Linked DNA regions of Homo sapiens. The protein of the gene in region 3 interacts with the protein of the main gene of each other region in a biochemical or structural test. Each region holds a gene or a part of one and is shown on either strand. Other genes may lie near its edges.

Region 1 (3,500 bases), on a different chromosome or scaffold from region 3:
ATGGCATGAACCCGGGAGGCGGAGCTTGCAGTGAGCCAAGATTGCGCCACTGCACTCCAGCCTGGGCAACAAAGCAAGACTCTGTCTCAAAAAAAAAAAAAAAAAAAGAGAAATCCCTCTCCTGTTTTCAGAGATAGGATTGAGAAGTAGTTTGTGCACACTCCGTAGTTAAGGCAGAAATCAGAGCCTGTATATCCTTACGTTGAGATATGGATGGTATGGCCCAAGTCTTGGTCCAAATAACACGAAGGCTAAGAACGGAAAGGAAGGAATCCCGTCTTGGTCTAGGCCATTAAACTCTTCTTTAAAAAGAAAAGAATTTAAATTTTACCTATTTATTTATTTTTTGAGATGGAGTCTTGCTGTGTCACCCAGGCTGGAGAGCAGTGATGCGATCTGGGCTCACTGCAACCTCTGCCTCCCAGGTCCAAGTGATTCTCCCGCCTCAGCCTCCTGAGTAGCTGGGATTACAGATGCCCACCATCACACCCGGCTAATTTTTGTATTTTTAGTAGAGACAGGGTTTCACCATATTGGCCAGGCTGGTCTTGAATTCCTGACCTCAAGTGATCTGCCTGCCTCAGCCTCCCAAAGTGCTGGGATTACAGTCGTGAGCCACCACACCTGGCCTAAACTCTTCTTAGTGCTTTGCTTTACATAGGGCCACCAGTCAGTTTGAGGATAAACACCTCCCAAAGCCAGCAGGGAGTGGTTCTTTTAGTTTGCTTGTTTTTTGAGACAGTGTCTAGCTATATTGCCCAGCCTCCTGAGTAGCTGGGATTATAAGTATGCACTACCATGCCTGACTGGTTCTTAACCTTTCTTCAGTCATACACTTGTTTGGGAACTGAAGGACAGGTGAATTTTCTCTCCAAAAAAATGTACACAGGCTGGGGGTGAGTGGTGCACACCTGTAATCTCAGCACTTTGGGAGGCCAAGGCAGGCAGATCACTTGAGCTCAAGAGTTCGAGCCCAGCCTGGTCAACATGGCGAAACCCTATCTCTACTAAAAATACAAAAACCAATAGCTGGGCGTGGTGATGCGAACCTGTAGTCCCAGCTACTGGGGCAGAGGCAGTGCTGAGGTGGGAGGATCACTTGAGCCATGGAGGTAGAGGCTGCAGTGAGCTGTGTTTGCACCACTAAACTCCAGCCTGGGTAACAGAGCAAGAACCTGTTACACACACACACGCACACACAAAATACATGACAACGAAATCCTCTTGGGCACAAATTACACATGATTTGCAGGGAGGGGATTGTAGAACTCATGCACCCAGGTTACAAATCCCAGCTGTAGGACAGAAGGCAGCTGCATACCTGGGCAGTTTCTCTGGACTTCCTTCCAGGATCTCTACTTGCCCAATTGTTGGCACACATAGAACATCCCCTTCCTGGACTACCCTGCAACACAGCAGTGGCCCTGGTCAGGTCACAATGGGAGTAATGAGCATGTGTTCATTACCACATGTCCACCCCCGACATGCAGACTACTTCTTGAGTCTACTGCCCGCCCAGAGATCCCACGCAGTTCTCCAAGGAACAAGTCAGTCTTAGGATGAGCTAGGGGAAATGGTGGAGAGACTAGAAAGGGGGATCAGAGACAGATGAGTGGCAGAGCAGGATCCTGGCTCTTTTGGAGCCCTCTTTAATCACAGGTGTCTCTGTTTGGAATGTCCAAATTAACCTCATGGTTCAGATTTCTCTTCTGTGGTCTCCCTGATATACCAAGAGGCGCCTACCACAATCTGTCTGAAATGTTTTTTTTGTTTTTTTTTTTTTTTTTTTTTTTTGAGACGGAGTCTCGCTCTGTCGCCCAGGCTAGAGTGCAGTGGTGCGATCTCGGCTCACTGCAAGCTCCACCTCCCGGGTTCACGCCATTCTCCTGCCTCAGCCTCCCAAGTAGCTGGGACTACAGGCGCCCACCACCACACTCGGCTAATTTTTTTTTTGTATTTTTAGTAGAGACGGGGTTTCACCATGTTAGCCAGGATGCTCTCAATCTCCTGACCTCATGATCCGCCCACCTCGGCCTCCCAAAGTGCTGGGATTACAGACGTGAGCCACAGCACCTAGCCGCAAATGTGGCTTCTTTTAACCAGGGCCTCTGGGGTACTTGGTTCTAAGGCATGGGATAGGAGGAATGTAATGAGGGTGAGAAGCTATCCTCCTTAAAAGGTTAGGTAGCTAACCTGGGTATCTGAAAGTGCCGGTAAAGAACACCGTCATAATTTCCATTAGTGCTGTAGTGGGGAGAAGACACAATTTCGATGTGTAACTCTCTGGCAAATGGAGGCCCAGGCAGCAATGAGCAGCTTCCTTTGTCTTCAGGGGCGATGGAGCCTTCCAAGTACCTCTATTAGAGAAATAACCACCACGTTATAACCTTCTCCTAAGGGGGCAGGCTCTAACCTGTCTCTCAGCAGCCAACATGTCTATTTCCATCCTGTCTTTCCCATAACCACAAGGCTTGTGGAAGGTGGGGCCTGAGGTAGCAGACCTGAAAACCTCTCCCTCTAATGGGTACCAGGAAGAGAATATCACCTCCTATCCCGACTCTGGCTCCAAAAAATTTTCTCAGTAAAGATAACCTTTCTGTGACACTTTCAACTTGGCCCAGAGCCAGTGAAATGGTAAAGACATTTATTCCCACAAGACCTATTAGTGACACCAGGCATCCACAGGGATTAACATTAAGTGGTCATTAGTGGGGAAACTGAATTCAGGCTGTGGGAAAAGCTGAACGGGTTGGTTCAGTCATTGGTTGGTTCAATGAGCTCTACTCTTGAGTACCCCAGTAGTTTTTCCTCCATTCAGGAGGAAACCTACATCCACTCCCTTTCACATGTATTTCACATGTATCTCTACCTGACATCCCAAAGTATTAACTGGTTACTCTAGTACTGCCCAGTAGAACTCTCTACAATGGAATAGTCTATATCTGCATGTGCTATTGAGCACTTGAAATGTGGCTAAAAACAAAACAAAAACAAAGAAATGTAGCTAAAGCAACTAAAAAACATGATTTAGTTTTTTTTTTTTTTTTGAGACTTAGTCTCACTTTGTCGCCCATGATGAAGTGCAGTGGCACAGTCTCGGCTCATTGCAACCTCTTCCTCCTGGGTTCAAATGATTCTCTTTGTGCCTCAGCCTCCTGAGTAGCTGGGACTATAGGCATGTGCACCACCATGCCTGGCTAATTTTTGTGGGTTTTATTTTTTTCTTGAGATGGAGTCTCGCTTGTCACCCAGGCTGGAGTGCAGTGGCACCATCTCGGCTCACTGCAAGCTCCGCCTCCTGGGTTCAAGGGATTCTCCTGCCTCAGCCTCCAGAGTAGCTGGGACGACAGGCATGTGCCACCACACCTAATTTTTTTTTTTTTTGTATTTTTAGTAGAGACGGGGTTTCACCGTGTTAGCCAGGATGGTCTCAATCTCCTGACCTTGTGATCTGCCTGCCTTGGCCTCCCAAAGTGCTGGGATTTAATTTTTGTATTTTT
Region 2 (3,930 bases), on a different chromosome or scaffold from region 3:
AGTTCGAGACCAGCCTGAGCAACACAGTGAGCCCTCGTCTCTACAAAAAATAAACAAAATTAGCTGAGCATGGTGGCATGCGTTTGTAGTTTCAGCTACTCGGGCGGCTGAGGTAGGAGGACCCCTTGAGCCCAGGAAGTGGAGGCTACAGTGAGCCGAGTTCGTGCCACTGCACTCCAGCCTGCGTGACAGTGAGATCCCAGAGATCCTCTCAAAAACCAAAACTTCAAAAACAAAAACCCGCAGAAACTCCTAGGGCTATGAGGAGTAAATGAGATAACTCATGCAGAGGCAAATTTACCATGAAGCAAATGAAACTTCAACCATGGGGGTCCTTAATTGAACAGTTTCTTCCACATCCGGGCATCTAATTTTGTATTAATAATTCTCCTTTTTTCTTTTTCTCAAAGAGTACCCTCGAACTGTATGACAATCAAGCCCTACCCAAATGCCAGTATCAGTACTTACTAAGCATACTGCCTGGGACAGAGAGATGCTCAACACGGGGCCCCTCCAGGCACTGGGCTGGCCTGGTCCCCTCTCTGTGGCTGAGGAGAGGGCTCCTCCTCTCACTCTGCCCTTTCTGTCTTTTCAGGATCATTTCTTCTTTCTTCAAAATGAAAGTAAAACATGCTGGGAATAATTTCATAATTACAAAACTGCCCTCCCAATTGGCCCCTGCCTCTACCCCCTGACCTCACCACCCACCAGGGAGGTGGGTCTTATTCTGGGCATCGTGCCAAGTTCTTAGCGGGGCCCTCTAGAATCTCTAAAGCAAATCAGGCTGAAGAGGGGAAAACCAGCAGGGGGAGGCAGCATTCCCGGTGCCCAGTATGGTCTAGGAGGCATTGAAATTCCAGGGCCGAAGTCCTGAGACAAAGATCATAATGAGACAGGAAGGTGGCAAAGGAAGGAGCCCATTTGCATGACAATAATTGAGCCAAGAATAGAAAGCCACAGGGATGCAAGGGTGAGGCTGGCGGCTGAGCTGGGCTAAACCTCACAAATCAGACTACCCAGCTCTGCTCCGCAGGGGAAGGGAGACTGAGCCCTGGGCCAGGCTTGGCAGAGAGGGAAGCGGGAGGACACGACCCCAGGGCATTGTGGGAACACTGGCCAGGCTGGACTTTGCCTTCCTCCTCGTCCTTTAGCCGGGAGCCTGTCTTTGCTTGCCTTTGCCTTTGAGGCTCTGTGGCTGTGGGGCTGAGTGGCATCATGGCGGCTCAGAAAGATCTCTGGGACGCCATTGTGATTGGGGCGGGGATCCAGGGCTGCTTCACTGCATACCACCTGGCCAAACACAGGAAGAGGATCCTCCTGCTGGAGCAGGTACTGTGTCCCTTCTGCACCCCCAGCTGTAAGGACTGTCCTACCCTCCTCCCCTGCAGAAGGGTTTTCAGAGCCAGCAGGCTACAGGGCAAGGCCAAAGGGACTGAATCATCAAAAATTCTGTGTAATTTGTATCTTAGCTGCCTAGTGTGTTTCATGGCAATTCAAAGAAGTTTCACATCCCTCATACCCACATTGGGTTTCTAGGCACATTTCCTCTTTCTACTGCTTCCCAGTTCCTGCCCTTGACCAAGCGTCCTAGGCCCTGTTCTCTTCCTTCTCACTACTCTTTCCCTTCTGTGCCCAAATGGTTGATCCCCACCCCAGAAAAATAATTGGTTCTGCTCTAGGTAACCTAAAGTAAAGATAATTTTGCCTAGAGGCAAAGGTTGATTTATCAGCCTAAGAGGTAGGATTCTGTCTTGCATATTCCTGGCCTCTCACACCAGAACCCAGCAGAAGCTTCTGTTTTTTTTTTTTATTTTTTATTTTTTGCCACCTCCAGATAATAGCAGCCTCCTTGTTTGACACATGATAAGTGAGACTGAGGCCTTATTTTTCCTGCTACGCAGTGCAGTCTGCAGTGACCACTGCATATGTGGGTGGGCCCTGTGTGTCTGCAGGGTCCTTCGAGGACAGGGCCACCCAGCTATCCACTGCAGTGGACTCTCCCTTTCCATTCTGCCTGCAGCTACCCAGGCTGGCTATGGTTTGCTCTTCTTGGTAATGAGCCAGAGTAGTTAGAAACCTTCTTCATTTCTCTATCAGTTTTCTCAAAGCCCAAGGGATTCCTGGTTCATCCTCTCAGGAAACTCATTGTTGCTGAATCCTGAGGTGGTTCTCTTACCCTGAGTGATCTGTAGCCACAGAGAAATAAAGTCAGCATCAGTTTCCTTGTTCATAAAATGAAGGGGCTGGAGTAGTTGAACTGGAAGGTTTTTTCTAATTTTGCTTCTTTGTGAATCTAAGTGAGGTGAGATTGCAGCAGGATGGTTGAAGACTAGCTAACAAAAGAACTTCTGGATGTGAACAACGTTAGCAAAAAGGAAGCCTAAGTTAGTGCTATTGAAGAACTTCTATCTTGATTGCCAAGTCAGTAAATTGGTCATAAAGAGAGAATTTGGAAAGATTGTGTGAATTTTTTTTTGTGGGGGGACAGGATCTCACTCTATTGCACGGGCTGGAGTGCAGTGGTACTATCATAGTTCACTACAGCCTCAAACTCCTGGGCTCAAACAGTCCTCCTACCTCAGCCTTCCAAGTAGCTGGGACTACAAGTGCCACCACACCTGATAGTTTTTAAATTTTTGAGAAGACTGGGTCTTGCTATATTGCCTAAGCTGGTCTTGAATTCCTGGGCTCAAATTATCTTCCTGTGCATAATCCTTCCCCAGATTGTGTGGAAATATTTGAAGGATAAATGGCTCCTGGTTGACAGCACATGCTGATATGGCTCTTAACAGGGGATGCAGTGTGAGGGGTAATGGCTTCCATCATCTCTCTTGTTTTCCACTTCCAGTTCTTTCTACCACACTCCCGAGGAAGCTCCCATGGACAAAGCCGGATAATCCGAAAGGCGTACCTGGAAGACTTTTACACCCGGATGATGCATGAGTGCTATCAGATATGGGCCCAGCTGGAGCACGAGGCTGGAACCCAATTGCACAGGTGGGCTGTGGGAGGAATTCCTTGAATCGTGGGGCTCTGCACCTGCAGGTACTTTTAGTGTGTGAAGTGGCAGCGCCATGGAACATTTGGAATGCAATGGGAGGGACACAAGGCCTCAAGAAGTACCAGATGCATGGAAGAGTTCTGCTGTCATGGTGGTCACCCCACAGGTCCAGCTGACTCTGGCCAGGCTCTGCGTTGCAGGACTGGGTTCAGACCATGTGTCCAAGGCTAGCAGAAGCAGTACTGGAAAGCCTGCTGGCAAGGCACCGTGTGGCAGATGCCCAGAGTGGACAGGAGTCTGCTGGAGTGTGTATTTTCAACTCTGTGGAGGCCTCTGCAACTCTTTTAGGGCAGGGGTTGAGATAGAGGAGGAGGCTGCTTTCAGGAGGATTCTTTTTTTTTTTTTTTTTTTTTTTTTTTTGACAGAGTCTCGCTTTTTTGTCAGGCTGGAGTGTAGTGGCGCCATCTTGGCTCACTGCAACCTCCACCTCCCGGGTTCAAGTGATTCTTCTGCTTCAGCCTCCCGGGCAGCTGGGACTACAGGTGCGCACCACCACACCCAGCTAATTTTTGTATTTTTAGTAGAGACAGGGTTTCACCATGTTGGCCAGGATGGTCTTGATCTCTCGACCTCATGATCTGCCCTTCTCGGCCCCCCTAAGTACTGGGATTACAGGTGTGAGCCACCGTGCCTGGCCCAGGATTCTTTATAGTCAAATCAACATCCTAACTTTTCCTGAGGGGTCCTCACCCCCTTTAGCAGCCCTATAAACCCATTTTGTTCTCTCTGAGTACCTTTTCCTGTAGGAACAAAATGGGGACGTTCCCCAGGCTGGATTGCTTGCCAGGGAGTGAGCCTCCACGTCTTTCTCTGCTGCCTTCATGGCTCTCTCCAACCCTTGACCTTTCAAACACTCATGGGAAAGAAAG
Region 3 (3,500 bases):
TATAATGTAATATATGTTATGTAATAATTATATATGTCATATATAATTTAATTATATGTCATATTTAATTATATATGTCATAATTTATATATGTCATATATAATTTAATTATATGTCATATATAATTTAATTATATATGTCATAATTTATATATGTCATATATAATTTAATTATATATGACATATATAATGTAATAATTATGTGTCATACATATATGTGTCATATATAATGTAATAATTATATGTGCCATATATAATGTAATAATTATGTGTCATATATAATGTAATAATTACATCATATATAATGTAATAATTATATATGTCACATATAATGTAATAATTATATATGTCACATATAATGTAATAATTATATATGTCACATATAATGTAATAATTATATATGTCACATAATGTAATAATTATATATGTCACATATAATGTAATAATTATATATGTCACATATAATGTAATAATTATATATGTCACATATAATGTAATAATTATATATGTCACATATAATGTAATAATTATATATGTCACATATAATGTAATAATTATATATGTCACATATAATGTAATAATTATATATGTCACATATAATGTAATAATTATATATGTCACATAATGTAATAATTATATATGTCACATATAATGTAATAATTATATATGTCACATATAATGTAATAATTATATATGTCACATATAATGTAATAATTATATATGTCACATATAATGTAATAATTATATGTCACATATAATGTAATAATTATATGTCACATATAATGTAATAATTATATATGTCACATATAATGTAATAATTATATATGTCACATATAATGTAATTATATATGTCACATATAATGTAATTATATATGTCACATATAATGTAATTATATATGTCACATATAATGTAATTATATATGTCATATAATGTAATAATATATGTCATATATAATGTAATAATTATATATGTCATATATAATGTAATTATATATGTCATATATAATGTAATTATATATGTCATATATAATGTAATTATATATGTCATATGTAATAATTATATGTCATATGTAATAATTATATATGTCATATATAATGTAATAATTATATATGTCATATATAATGTAATCATATGTCATATACAATGTAATAATTATATATGTCATATACAATGTAATAATTATATATGTCATATACAATGTAATAATTATATATATGTCATATACAATGTAATTATATGTCATATACAATGTAATTATGTTATATATAATGTAATAATTATATATGTTATATATAATATAATAATTATATATGTTATATATAATGTAATAATTATATGTTATATATAATGTAATTATATATGTTATATATAATATAATAAGTAGTAATTACTTATTATTTATAATTAGGTGTATTCTGAGAGTCTTGATCTTTGTTTTTCACATTTTGACATTTCATGCTCAGATTTTGAGACTACTTTGTTGACATTATTCAGGCAAAGTTTCAGTTAAAATGGAGTAGAAGTTTTTGTACTTTAATACCGAAGGGGTAGTAAAAGCAAGGGTGGTCAGATCTTGAAACTGGGGACAAAGACTGCTAGTATCAGCTAATATTTTCACACCCCTGCCCAAATGTCCCTCTTTAATGCAAATTGGAGTTAGTAGGTTCTCAACAAGAGAGTGGAGTTCCCCCTTGGGAACTGTCCTTGTCATGGGCCAGGAGTGGGGAATAGCAGGGGAAGGTGGTGGCAGACTAACTAGTAAGATTAGTTCTGGACACAGGGCAGAAGGAAAGAACACCGTAGGCTTGTGCCTTCTCTTTGTTTCCTTGTGTTCTTTAGTGCCCGCAGTCAGTCTCCTTGTTTTTTTTTTCTGGCCACAGGATAGTAAAGGGCAAAGTCCTGGAGGATGAAAAACAGTTCAGCACCCTCATTGAGTTTGTTGCCTTGATAGGTTAATTCTGATGTTGCAGCAGTCCCCTTTGTCACTAGAGCTTCTGAGACAGTTTCTAAAATTAGACTGAAAAAACATAGCTACTCAAAGATAATCAAAAGTGAGAAAAGTCAGAATAGTGTTTACTTCTGGGGGCTGGGAGACTGAGGGAGCCTGTGAGGGAACTGTAAACGTTCTGTATCTTGATCCGGGTGGTGGTTATGTGAGTGTATCAAATGTGGAAGTTAATTTAGCTGTACACTTAAGTTTGGTAGACATTATATGGTTTCATATTTGTATATTACATTTCAATTAAAAAATGAAAAAACCCACCAAACATCCATAGGGAAGAGCAGACCTATGTGTCTTTAATTCTAGCCTAGCATTCCACTTCTCTGATTCTCTTGGTAGGCAAATTACAATGAAATAAGGCTCCTTTGGCCGGGATTGTGTGAACTCTGGGTAGAGGGAGAACAGACCAGTGCCTTGGTTAAGGAACAGGAGCCCTTCTGTGCTCCCTTCACTCCTTACTGGCTCCCTGCTGTACTTCTGAGGAAAGTGAAAGCCCTTCCGCTTCCTATTTCTTATTGAAATATCTTGCACTTCAAGAAAAAGAGTTTGGTTCTTAATCCTTTCCTGAGATTCCTTATTTGATCTCCCGTTCCCAACTCTCAGTAAATTTCTGCCCCAGGCTCCTTGAGAATGGGTTGGATATTGAGGATGTTGAAAATTTAGTACTATATTCTTTTGACCAGGGGTTTCTGAGGGAGTCAGCAGAGTTTTGTCTGCTTTGGTGTGGCTAAGAGGGTCAGTTGAATATGGGCATCTCTTTCCCTTTCCTTGATCCCACACTGAATGAACCTGTGTGATTTCCCCACTTCTCTGCTCCTTGCAGACCCCTTGTCTGTGTCCCCTGCCCGCTGGGCTGAGGAATATTTGGAGCAATCAGAGGAGAAGCTGTGGCTGGGAGAACCTGAGGGAACAGCCACCGATCGCTGGTGAGTTCAGATACCTCTTTCCGAATCCCGTGAAAGGAGTATGGACAGTTTTCCCAGCCTCCTCCATCCACGTTCTCGAACCAACTTACTTTATTCTTTTTTTTTTTTTTTTTTATCATTCTTGGGTGTTTCTTGCAGAGGGGGATTTGGCAGGGTCATAGGACAATAGTGGAGGGAAGGTCAGCACATAAGCAAGTGAACAAAGGTCTCTGGTTTTCCTAGGCAGAGGACCCTGCGGCCTTCCGCAGTGTTTGTGTCCCTGGGTACTTGAGATTAGGGAGTGGTGATGACTCTTAAAGAGCATGCTGCCTTCAAGCATCTGTTTAACAAAGCACATCTTGCACCGCCCTTAATCCATTTAACCCTGAGTGAACACAGCACATGTTTCAGAGAGCACAGGGTTGGGGGTAAGGTCATAGATCAACAGGATCCCAAGGCAGAAGAATTTTTCTTAGTACAGAACAAAATGAAAAGTCTCCCATGTCTACTTCTTTCTACACAGACACAGCAACCATCGGATTTCTCAATCTTTTCCCCACCTTTCCCCCTTTTCTATTCCACAAAACCGCCAT
Region 4 (2,736 bases), on a different chromosome or scaffold from region 3:
CTCCATCTACTGTGATGAGTTTACCCTTCAGAGTCTTTCTTCTTTCAGCAGGGACCGGAACCACCTTACCCTCTCTGCATCTCCCACCTCTTATGCTGAACAGCTCTCCCAGGTCAAGCCTCAGGGGTCTGCCCTGGTTTATTTACTAGTTCTGAGGATCAGTGTCCTAATAAGCAACCTCTTAAGAGGATCAACCCAGCTTTCTTCACTGAATCTTTTCATGTTGTCTTTGAGGGATCTCACAGGGCGCATTAATGAATTCATTTTACACATTCAGTTCTACCTTAGGTACTGGTCTGACTGTCTCAAGTCTCACATTGTCTATGGCATAAACCTTAAGAAACCCTGCCTTTGTCTTTCACAGTGGTCATCTCCATCAGAGGCAACTGAAAGTTTCTTATCAAAAGAAATTTGGTTGCCACCCCCACAGTTCTACGAAGTGAGAAGACTTGCAAACTTTGCCTCTCTCTCTGACTTGCACAAATTTTGTTTGGGTCGTGCATTAGAAGGACTGGAAAGGTGGCTGCCGATCATCTTGTTAACTGCTGATGGGATGGTCCATCTTTTACCAGGTAAACCAGTGAAGCATCGGTGCTTTTGTTAGTATTCACATTCAGTGCCCTGGGCTGCATGGCTGTATTGCCCAACGTAGAGACAGGAATTACAGTCTGTGTTTTGTAATCTACAGGGTATTAGCTAAGTAAGATCAAAGCCTATAAAATATCCATATTATTATAACCAGAAATTCTGCATAATGTCATATACATACACATACATTTATATTAATATATTTCCTAGACATTGACAAAGGTCTTTCTCATATAATTTCTCACTTTTTTTTTTTTTTTCTGAGACAGTTTCCCTCTGTCACCCAGGCTGGAGTGCAGTGGCACAATCTTGGCTCACTGCAACCTCCACCTCCCAGGTTCAAGCAATTCTCTGCCTCAGCCTCCCAAGAAGCTGGGATTACAGGTGCCCACCACTGTGCCCGGCTAATCTTTGTATTTTTTTTTTAGTAGATACGGGGTTTCACCATCTTGGCCAGGCTGGTCTTGAACTCTTGACCTTGTGATCCACCCGCCTTGGCCTCCCAAAGTGCTGGGATTACAGTCATGAGCCACCATGCCTGGCTGATTTCTCACTTTTTTGCATTTTAAGTTTGAATTACGAGAACTCGTAAGTTGTCATCTAATTTGAATTAGGGAGCTTTTTTTTTGAGACAGAGTTTTGCTCTTGTCACCCAGGCTGGAGTGCAATCTGGGCTCACTGCAACCTTTGCCTCCTGGGTTCAAGCGATACTTCTGCCTCAGCCTCCCGAGTAGCTGGAATTACAGGCATGTGCCACCACGCCTGGCTAATTTTTTTGTATTATTAGTAGAGACAGGGTTTCACCATGTTGGCCAGGCTGGTCTTGAACTCCTGACCTCAGGTGATCCGCCCGCCTCAGCCTCCCCAAATTCTGGGATTATAGGCATGAGCCACTGTGCCCAGCCAACTTTGTTTTTTTTTTTCAGTTGGACATAATTTCAATTGAAATTATGAATTATGAAATTATGAAGAAAATAAAGTAAAATGTTAACTCTATCTCAACTGAAAATACAAAAAAAAAAAAAAAAAACAAATTAGCCAGGCATGGTGGCACACACCTGTAATCCCAGCTGCTCAGGAGGCTGAGGCAGGAGAATCACTTGAACCCAGGAGGTAGAGGTTGCAGTGAGCCAAGATCATGCCACTGCACTCTAACCTGGGCGACAGAGCGACACTCTCTGTCAAAAACAAAACAAAACAAAAGGCTGGGCGCGGTGGCTCACACGTGTAATCTCAGCACTTTGGGAGGCTGAGGCGGGTGGATCACCTAAGGGCGAGAGTTCGAGACCGGCCTGACCAACATGGAGAAATCCCGTCTCTACTAATAATACAAAATTAGCTGGGCATGGGGGCGCATGCCTATAATCCCAGCTACTTGGGAGGCTGAGGCAGGAGAATCACTTGAACCCAGGAGGCAGAGGTTGTGGTGAGCTGAGATTGCGCCATTGCACTCCAGCCTGGGCAACAAGAGCGAAACTCCATCTCAAAAAAAAAAAAGATTTATTACTCAACCTACAGTGGGAAAATTTAGCAGTTTTGATGGAATTTCTCTAAATTAACCTGAAGATGATAAGAACAGCCCACTTTGAAACATCAAAAGTATATGAATATCAAGGCCAATCTTAATATCAGTATTGAATAGAATAAAGAGAGTCATGAACTGGTATAATAGTTACAGTTCACAGTGGAAACATACCAGTCACAGATGTTTATGGGCCCAAAGAAAACTCTTGGCTGGGGTGTTGTAAGGGGATATTAAAAACACAAGAAAGAGGACAGGCGCAGTAGTTCACGCCTGTAATCCCAGCACTTTGGGAGGCCGAGGTGGGTGAATCATTTGAGGTCAGGAGTTTGAGACCAGCCTGGTAAACATGGCGAAACCTGTCTCTACTAACAATACAAAAATTAACCAGGCGTGGTGGCAGACACCTGTGATCCCAGTTACTCGGGAGGCTGAGGCATGAGAATTGCTTGAGCCCAAGAGGTGGAGGTTGCAATGAGCCGAGATCGCGCCACTGCACTCTAGCCTGGGCAACAGAGTGAGACTCCATCTCAAAAAACAGATAAAAAAACACAATAAAGAAATTGAGGTAAGCTCATAGAATTAGATTAGTTAACAACTATCTCAGTTCCAAACATATTAAATAG

The links. The genes of interacting proteins can lie anywhere in the genome.
Region 1: the proteins of PEX5 (region 3) and PEX6 form a complex in vitro, tested with the Homo sapiens proteins (one study listed by BioGRID).
Region 2: the proteins of PEX5 (region 3) and PIPOX interact in a test that uses a peptide from one of them, tested with the Homo sapiens proteins (one large-scale study listed by BioGRID).
Region 4: the proteins of PEX5 (region 3) and NUDT19 interact in a test that uses a peptide from one of them, tested with the Homo sapiens proteins (one large-scale study listed by BioGRID).

What each region holds. Positions count from the first base shown.
Region 1 is NC_000006.12:42,972,682-42,976,181, forward strand, and holds part of PEX6 (peroxisome biogenesis factor 6), read right to left. Parts: intron 2,358-3,500; coding exon 2,194-2,357; intron 1,406-2,193; coding exon 1,322-1,405; intron 1-1,321. UniProt on the Homo sapiens protein: Component of the PEX1-PEX6 AAA ATPase complex, a protein dislocase complex that mediates the ATP-dependent extraction of the PEX5 receptor from peroxisomal membranes, an essential step for PEX5 recycling.
Region 2 is NC_000017.11:29,042,011-29,045,940, forward strand, and holds the start of PIPOX (peroxisomal sarcosine oxidase), read left to right. Parts: upstream 1-1,130; 5' UTR 1,131-1,215; coding exon 1,216-1,329; intron 1,330-2,848; coding exon 2,849-2,997; intron 2,998-3,930. UniProt on the Homo sapiens protein: Metabolizes sarcosine and L-pipecolic acid.
Region 3 is NC_000012.12:7,196,186-7,199,685, forward strand, and holds part of PEX5 (peroxisomal biogenesis factor 5), read left to right. Parts: intron 1-2,825; coding exon 2,826-2,928; intron 2,929-3,500.
Region 4 is NC_000019.10:32,708,821-32,711,556, forward strand, and holds part of NUDT19 (acyl-coenzyme A diphosphatase NUDT19 precursor), read left to right. Parts: intron 1-364; coding exon 365-572; intron 573-2,736. UniProt on the Homo sapiens protein: Fatty acyl-coenzyme A (CoA) diphosphatase that hydrolyzes fatty acyl-CoA to yield acyl-4'-phosphopantetheine and adenosine 3',5'-bisphosphate.